Homo sapiens: one gene and its partner. The protein of the gene in region 1 interacts with the protein of each later gene in a biochemical or structural test. Each region holds a gene or a part of one and is shown in the gene's direction. Other genes may lie near its edges.

Region 1 (3,748 bases):
ACTGCGCCCAGCCGATATCACTAATTTTTTTTGAAATACGAAGATATTTTGGTTATTAAAAGCAGTGTATATATATGATAAAGTAATGTGTAACAGGAAGCTTTATGAAGAATGTCTTCCAATACACCTTTATAAAGTTCTAAATTCAAAGATTTGTATTCCTCTGGCACGTGAACGATCATTTCAGGCTTTGCTGGGTTATCGTAAAGTCCCTAAGTATGTATACAGAAACAGGACTTAGATCAAAAGGCACGTAACAAGAGCACTGCTTAAAATTGAGTACTCAGGATAGGGTATTAAGATTTAGTGCGGGCTCAGTATGCTTGTAGATCAAAATGGTGTGAGACTTAATGGGAAGGGAACCTGCAAAGATGTGCCCTCTGTGAACCAGGAGGTGTTGGTGGGGTTTCGTCACAGAGAAGAGGGAGCCAGCCTTCCCACTGATGGTATTACAGGTGATCAGGATAGCTTCTGTGCTGAATCGGCCATGCCAATTCCCATTGTAAATGGTTCCCTTCCCAGTTCAAAAGGGGTCACAAATCTTATCAAATGGTAAATTTATTTAATGACTGAATATGATATATAGCAAGCGGCTTCCTGTTTGTGTTATTTACTTTGTCATATTAGTCATGATATGAATAATACCACTGTGTTTCGTGAATTAGGTTCTCAGAGGCACTGTGACTGACTTCCCTGGATTTGATGAGCGGGCTGATGCAGAAACTCTTCGGAAGGCTATGAAAGGCTTGGGTAAATTTAGCTTCCTCTTTCTAAAGCAAATGTGATATTTGTTTTTCCAAACAAGTCATTAATTACAGTAAGAATAATTTTAGAATATTTTGATCTGAAATCTGTAGGAGAAGAGATATGTTAAGATAACAAAATAATACTATAAACCAGAGTGTCCAGTCTTTTGGCTTCTCTGGGCCACATTGGAAGAATTATCTTGGGCCACACATAAAATACACTAACAATAATGATAGCTGATGAGCTAAAAAAAAAAAAAAAGCAAAAAAATTTCATAATGTTTTCAGAAAGTTTATGAGTTTGTGTTAGGCTGCATTCAGAGCTGTCCTGGGCCACATGTGGCTTGCAGGCCATGGGTTGGACAAGCTTGCTATAAACCATCCCTAATATTCAGTCTCTAGAACTGAACAGGCAGTTAAATTCAGCCTCTGTGCTTTTGAGCTTGTCACCCTCACCTGTGTGGTAGAGGCCCGAGTCGATAAGGCAGCCATCCCTGCAGGTGGGCAGCTGTGCAGCTCTGTTCCCAATCAGATATCCCATTCTCATTCTGCTAGACTCTTCTCTTTCCCCAGCCTCTTTTCTAGTCATTTAAAAACCTCTCATCTCAAGGATTTCCATGTGTCACTGATCTCCTGTGCTCAGGCTCCTTTTGTACTACTGTTCATGTGCTTTCTGGCCCTGTAAGTCCTTCCATTGTATCCAGCCCACCTTTTCAGACTCATCTCCCATTACTGTTTAATGTGTTCTCAGACCCAACCATCCTGGCTTATCTGCTGTTTATGAAAGCCCTGTATTTCCCCACTGCTGAGCTTTTCTCTCATTCTAAACGCTGTCCTTCCTTTCGTCACTGCCTTTCACAATCCTTCCATCCTTCAATACTTGTGGGTGTCACCTTCTCCATGAATCATTCTCCAAGATTCCCTTCCACCTCCTATCAGCTAGGAGACCCTTCTTTGAGCCCCATTTAACACCTAGATCTCTCCTGAGGCACTTGTCACATTTTGCCTTAGCTCATACTTATTTGTGTGTTTTTAAAAAACTAGGTGCCCTAAGTTTTTTAAAAGGCAGAAGTATTTTTCCATCTACTTCACAATAGGTTGGGAATGGGGGGTAGAATATATTGGAAACGTAACATTTTATATATTGTAAATTTTTAATAAACTGTTTAATAAAACATTTATATATATGTGTGTATTTGCGTCTGTGTGTGTGTGTGTGTATATATATATGTGTGTGTGTATATATATATATATATACATATTTTTTTTTTTTCTAAGAGATGGGGGTCTCACTATGTTGACCAGGCAGGTCTTGAACTCCTGGCCTCAAGCAATCCTCCCATCTTGGCCTCCCAAAGAGCTAGGATTACAGATGTGAGCCACTGCGCCGGCCATAAAATATATTTTATATTCGCATAGGGAGAGGCAAGGAAATAAGGTGACTGGGAAGCGAGTTGCCAAGATCGTTGGGAGAGTATGCATGTAGGAGCCAAAATGTAATTGTTAACCATAAATTGCAGGCACAGATGAGGAGAGCATCCTGACTCTGTTGACATCCCGAAGTAATGCTCAGCGCCAGGAAATCTCTGCAGCTTTTAAGACTCTGTTTGGCAGGGTAAGACCACACTTCATCCCAAGAGAGAATGGGAGAACAGCTATCAGTTATAAGACTAGTTTGGAATATACTGATATTCTTTTGTAAGCATCATTTATTTTGTGATTCCGACTTCCCTACTTCTGTTTCTTTTCCACTCTCCTCTAAATTATCAGCTCTTAGGATACAGTGCTCACCCAGCTTATCCTCACATAATTGTTTTTCCTTGCCTAATGCTGTAGAGGTGCCAAAAGATCCTGTAGTGAGAACTGTCTCTCTTCTTTTCCTCTGTGTTTCCCACTCAGCATTCACATGGATGTCTTACTATCCATTTTCTAGGTGTAAGCCTGTATTAAAATATGTTTTGTTTTAACACAGTCACAGTCTTGGTTCCTTTTGTCATGATTTTAACTAATGGGTTTTTAATTAGTTGATTTAAATGCTTTTATTTGATTAATAATTCAAAAAAATTTATTTGAATTATTTAAATGAATTATTTGAATTATTTAAATTTAAATGAATTAGTGCATGCATGGAAAACTTAAATGTAGTCTTGTTATTCTGAAAACGTATGTCACTTAACTAAGGAAACAAGTGCAAAGCAAAAAAGAAAGTATTCTAAACACCATTTTTAGTTGTGTGGTATGCTGAAACTTATAGGTAGGAAATACTGTGTTTTTTTTTTCACAATTACATAATTTTTTCATAATTACATACACAATTTCCCCATAGGAACAGATATCTCCCAGTGGTCAGGAGTCATAACAATGACTATAATCTATTATGTGTTTGAATGTTATTACATATTGAGAGAAAAGAAAAAATTATTACGTTTGGGTATGAGAGACTAAATGTTGTCCTTTGTAAATTTCATTATATGATTATTTTTTGAAATTACAAAGAAGATATGTTTCTCAGAATAGTATTTTTATAAAATAGTTTTAGACTACTTTTAAAGGTATTCTTTTTTTTCAAGTTAAGAAAAACATCTTTTAGAAACAAATATCTTGACGTATAAGTGGGTTTGCTTTAGTTTAAGATTTTGGTCACAGGTTAAAAGTATGTTATTCAAGGTTATAGGGTTTTGTTTAGCTCATGGGCCTTCTACTTGGAGACAGCAACATAAAGAATTCATTAGAGCAAAGGACTGTCATTCATATTTAAGAAGAATCTTATTACAATTTCTGCTGGTTAACAAATTTGTATTTTCTGTGGGTTAGGATCTTCTGGATGACCTGAAATCAGAACTAACTGGAAAATTTGAAAAATTAATTGTGGCTCTGATGAAACCCTCTCGGCTTTATGATGCTTATGAACTGAAACATGCCTTGAAGGTAAAAAGGATGAGTGAAAGGAACATTCTTGCATAGATAGTATTATTTTGTTTTGGTAATTACTTCCTCTTATT
Region 2 (3,748 bases), on another chromosome or scaffold:
TGGTGATTGAGTGCCAGAACTTTAGGGGTGCCCTAACCTCCCACTTTCTCCCAGACACATCAGCAAGATTCTGGAGACTTAACTCTCACTTTCATTGCTTTAACCCCAAGGCAGGCAAGTTTCCATGAGACAAGGTTATACTCACAGGTGTGTACTCCCCACAGTCTTTCAATAATTAAATGCCTTTGGCTCTTGGTCCAGGTCATTCCTCTGTAGTTTATTCAGTTTCTGACCCGCAGATGCCTCTGTGGAGCACAAGTCCAGCAAGTTGTAGCCCTAGAAGTACAGGGTTTCAGCTGTAACTTGAAGCAAGCTACAGGTAGCTTCAAGCATGTCACTGTTGTGGGAGCTTCAAGCAAATAGTAATAGGAGATGCAAGCAAGTTTCTCTCTGGGCCTCAGAAGGGAGGGATGGCATCTGCCCCTCAAAGCTCCATTCACCTCTGCATTCTTGATGGCCCCACGGGTGGCTTCGGGCAGGCATAGTCCCCACTCTTATCCTATCTGCAGGCTCAAATCGTTCCCAGCCCACGGCAGAAAGATGTGGAGATGCCTCTGGCCACCACTTTGGGGATCACCATCAAGGGGTCCCTTTAGTAAGCCAGGCTGGCTCTCCCTGCGCACCCCGATGAGGTAGACCTCATTCCCCCGTCTAGGAGGTGGATATGCTAAGGAGAGCGCGGGCCCTGCTCTAGGCCTGGCCCCACTCATCAGCTGTGTGAGCATGACTAAATCCACCAACCCCGCCAACCCTGTTTTCTCTCTGGTAAAATGAGGACACTTCCTTCTAGGGCATTTAAAAGAGATGCTTGTGGAAAAGTCCAGCACAGTGCCTGGTACATAGTAGGCACTTGGCAACTAATAATTATTAGTGTTTTGTTTTGCTTTTTTTTTCTTTTTGAGACAAGATCTCACTCTGTCGTCCAGGCTGGAGTGCAGTGACACGATCACGGCTCACTGCAACCTCCCCCTCCCGGGCTCAAGCCATCCTCCCACCTCAGCCTTCTGAGTAGCTGGGACCACTGGCATGTGCCAAAATGCCCGGCTAATTTTTTGTACTTTTGGTAGAGATGGGGTTTTGCCATGTTGTCCAGGTTGGTCTCGAACTCCTGGCCTCAAGTGATCCTCCCAGTCTGCCCACCTCAGCCTCCCAAAGGGCTGGAATTACAGGTGTGAGCCACTACGCCCATCCTATTCGTGTTATCCTTTAACCAATTTCAGTGTCCAAGTGGATTGAATCTTTACTCACCTTGAGAGACTCCCTGTACCTCGAGACCTTGGAACTTAGCCTTGGAGTTGTTTTTGTCAATCTCTCCCCTTTGTCTCTTCCTACTCTTCCTACCCCACAGAGATGGAAGGTAAGGTGGAGCTAGCCCAAGCTGTCTGCAGCTGGCCTGGTCCCCCGAGTGTCTTCTGATCCTGCTCCCCTAGCTATCCTCAGCTCACCTATCCAGAAGCCTCTCCTGTTGAGCCTCTTGGCTAATGCTGAGTCCTGGGTGTCTGTTGTCAAGTCCTTTGAAACAGCAGTTTGCTGCCACGCAGGACTTTCTGCAGGACTTATAGAGCAGGATCTATCCTCCTGCTCAGTCCCATACCCTCTCCCCTCTCCCCGTGTCCCTAGATGTCACAGCATCTGAGGGGAGGCCTTTTAGAACCAGTAAAAATCTCAAAGTAATAGGGATCTGTATGTTTAGAAACAGATATTTATAATGTTCTCAAAAAATGAACATCGTGGGCCGGGCGCAGTGGCTCACGCCTGTAATCCCAACATTTTGGGAAGCCAAGGCGGGTGGATCACTTCAGGTCAGCAGTTTGAGACCAGCCTGGCCAACACAGTGAAACCCCATCTCCGTCTCTACCAAAACTACAAAAATTAGCCAGGCATGGTGACAGGCACCTGTAATCCCAGCTATTTGAGAGGCTGAGATGGGAAAATCGCTTGCACCTGGGAGGCAGAGGCTGCAGTGAGCCGAGATGGTGCCACTGCACTCCAGCCTGGGTGACAGAGAGACTCTGTCTCAAACAACAACAACAACAACAAAAACATTGTTACCTGAAGATTGTCCAGTAAATCAAGTGAATGATGACATTTTAAAAATTAGCTTTAATGACTGGGCGCAGTAGCTCACACCTGTAATCCCAGCACTTTGGGAGGCCGAAGTGGGCAGATCACGAGGTCAGGAGATGGAGACCATCCTGGCCAACATGGTGAAACCCCATCTCTACTAAAAATACAAAAATTAGCTGCGTGTGGTGGCGCGCACCTGTAATCCCAGCTACTCTGGAGGCTGAGGCAGGAGAATGGCTTGAACCCGGGAGGTGGAGATTGCAGTGAGCTGAGTGCATGCCACCGCACTCCAGCCTGGCAACAGAGCGAGACTCCACCTCAAAAAAAAAAAAAAAAGCTTTATTCTAGCCGAAAGAATAGAATTAAGAATAGTAATAGCTGAAAGTGGTTTTTAACCCATTCTGAGCTTCAGAATGATCTGAGGAGCCTTTTGAAAAATAAAGACATTTGGACCCAGATCCAGTGAGTCTGTTTGTGGGGTGGGCCGGGCCTCTGTCTGTTCAGGGAGTAAGGGAGAACCCACCCCTGAGTAAAACTTTACAACGGCATTTCATCAGGGCACACTGGCCACCTGTCTGTGCGTTTTCATAGAATCCACAGTGACTTGCTCTCAGGGCCCTGATGGGTGATTCAGACCCCACATGGCTCTCCTCAGGGGGGTGAGGAGGAGAGGGTGGGGGAGTCAGGCTCTAGTTCCTGAATCAGACCAAGCCTCATTCTTGCTTTCCTTCCATCCCAGCCCTGTGGGCAGCTGACAGGCATCCCTCCCGCACCATCTGCCACCCATCCAGGCCCACCTTGAGCCTGTTTTCAAGGCAATCTGTGAGAAGCTCCTGAGTGAGAAACACTTCCTTACATATTCTGTTTAAAAAGAAAAGGTCTGTCCATGTGCATGGTGCATTTCATCAGTTGGAGACTCTTCTTTAAGACCTCAGGGGCATGGGGGGATTGTGAAAGATGCAGCTATGACAAGCACTCACAGAGGAGGAATTGGGGCACGGGGGACTCGGGGGTGTCTGGAGAGCAAGCTCTGGAGTCAGCTGAGCCCTTTGCCAGCAGGCACAGAGCCCTCTCTATGGCGGGCCAGGTGGGTGCCCTTCACCCGGCACCCTGTGAGAGTGCCATTGTGCCTGGCACAGAGGCAGCGCCCAGGAAATGTTTTTCCACCAAATGACTTTTTAAGTGAGCAGAGAAGAGGCATCTGCAGCGGGGCTGGGAAGAGGATAGGACAGAAGAGAAAAGAAAGGGAGAATAAGAACTGTGTGAACTCAAGGAAGCCCTATAGCTTTCCGCAGGGGCCCATTTCCTCAGGGTCATGGGGATGCAAAGAGATAATGAATGTTAAAGAATTCACCTGTCAAATGTGAGCTCACCTGTGCATTCTCTTCTCCATGAAGCATGGGAGCTTGCTGGTTCTGAGGTCTCTTCCTACTCCGGCCATCTTGGTGGTTCTACCTGAGTGCGTGGAGAGGGCTGGAGTTCGCAGCTGCTCTTCATCAAGGGCCCTGCCCCTGGGTGAATGGGAGACCCTGGCTTGCCGCAGCCATGATATCCCTTCTCTTCCTTCTGCCCAGGCATCTTTTGAAGTATCATTGGAGGCCCGAAGCTGTCCCAGCAGACACACGGAGCATGTGTTTGCCCTGCGGCCGGTGGGATTCCGGGACAGCCTGGAGGTGGGGGT

The links. The genes of interacting proteins can lie anywhere in the genome.
Region 2: the proteins of ANXA5 (region 1) and ITGB5 form a complex in vitro, tested with the Homo sapiens proteins (one study listed by BioGRID).

What each region holds. Positions count from the first base shown.
Region 1 is NC_000004.12:121,683,290-121,687,037, reverse strand, and holds part of ANXA5 (annexin A5), read left to right. Parts: intron 1-665; coding exon 666-750; intron 751-2,266; coding exon 2,267-2,361; intron 2,362-3,560; coding exon 3,561-3,674; intron 3,675-3,748. UniProt on the Homo sapiens protein: This protein is an anticoagulant protein that acts as an indirect inhibitor of the thromboplastin-specific complex, which is involved in the blood coagulation cascade.
Region 2 is NC_000003.12:124,796,711-124,800,458, reverse strand, and holds part of ITGB5 (integrin beta-5 isoform a precursor), read left to right. Parts: intron 1-3,641; coding exon 3,642-3,748.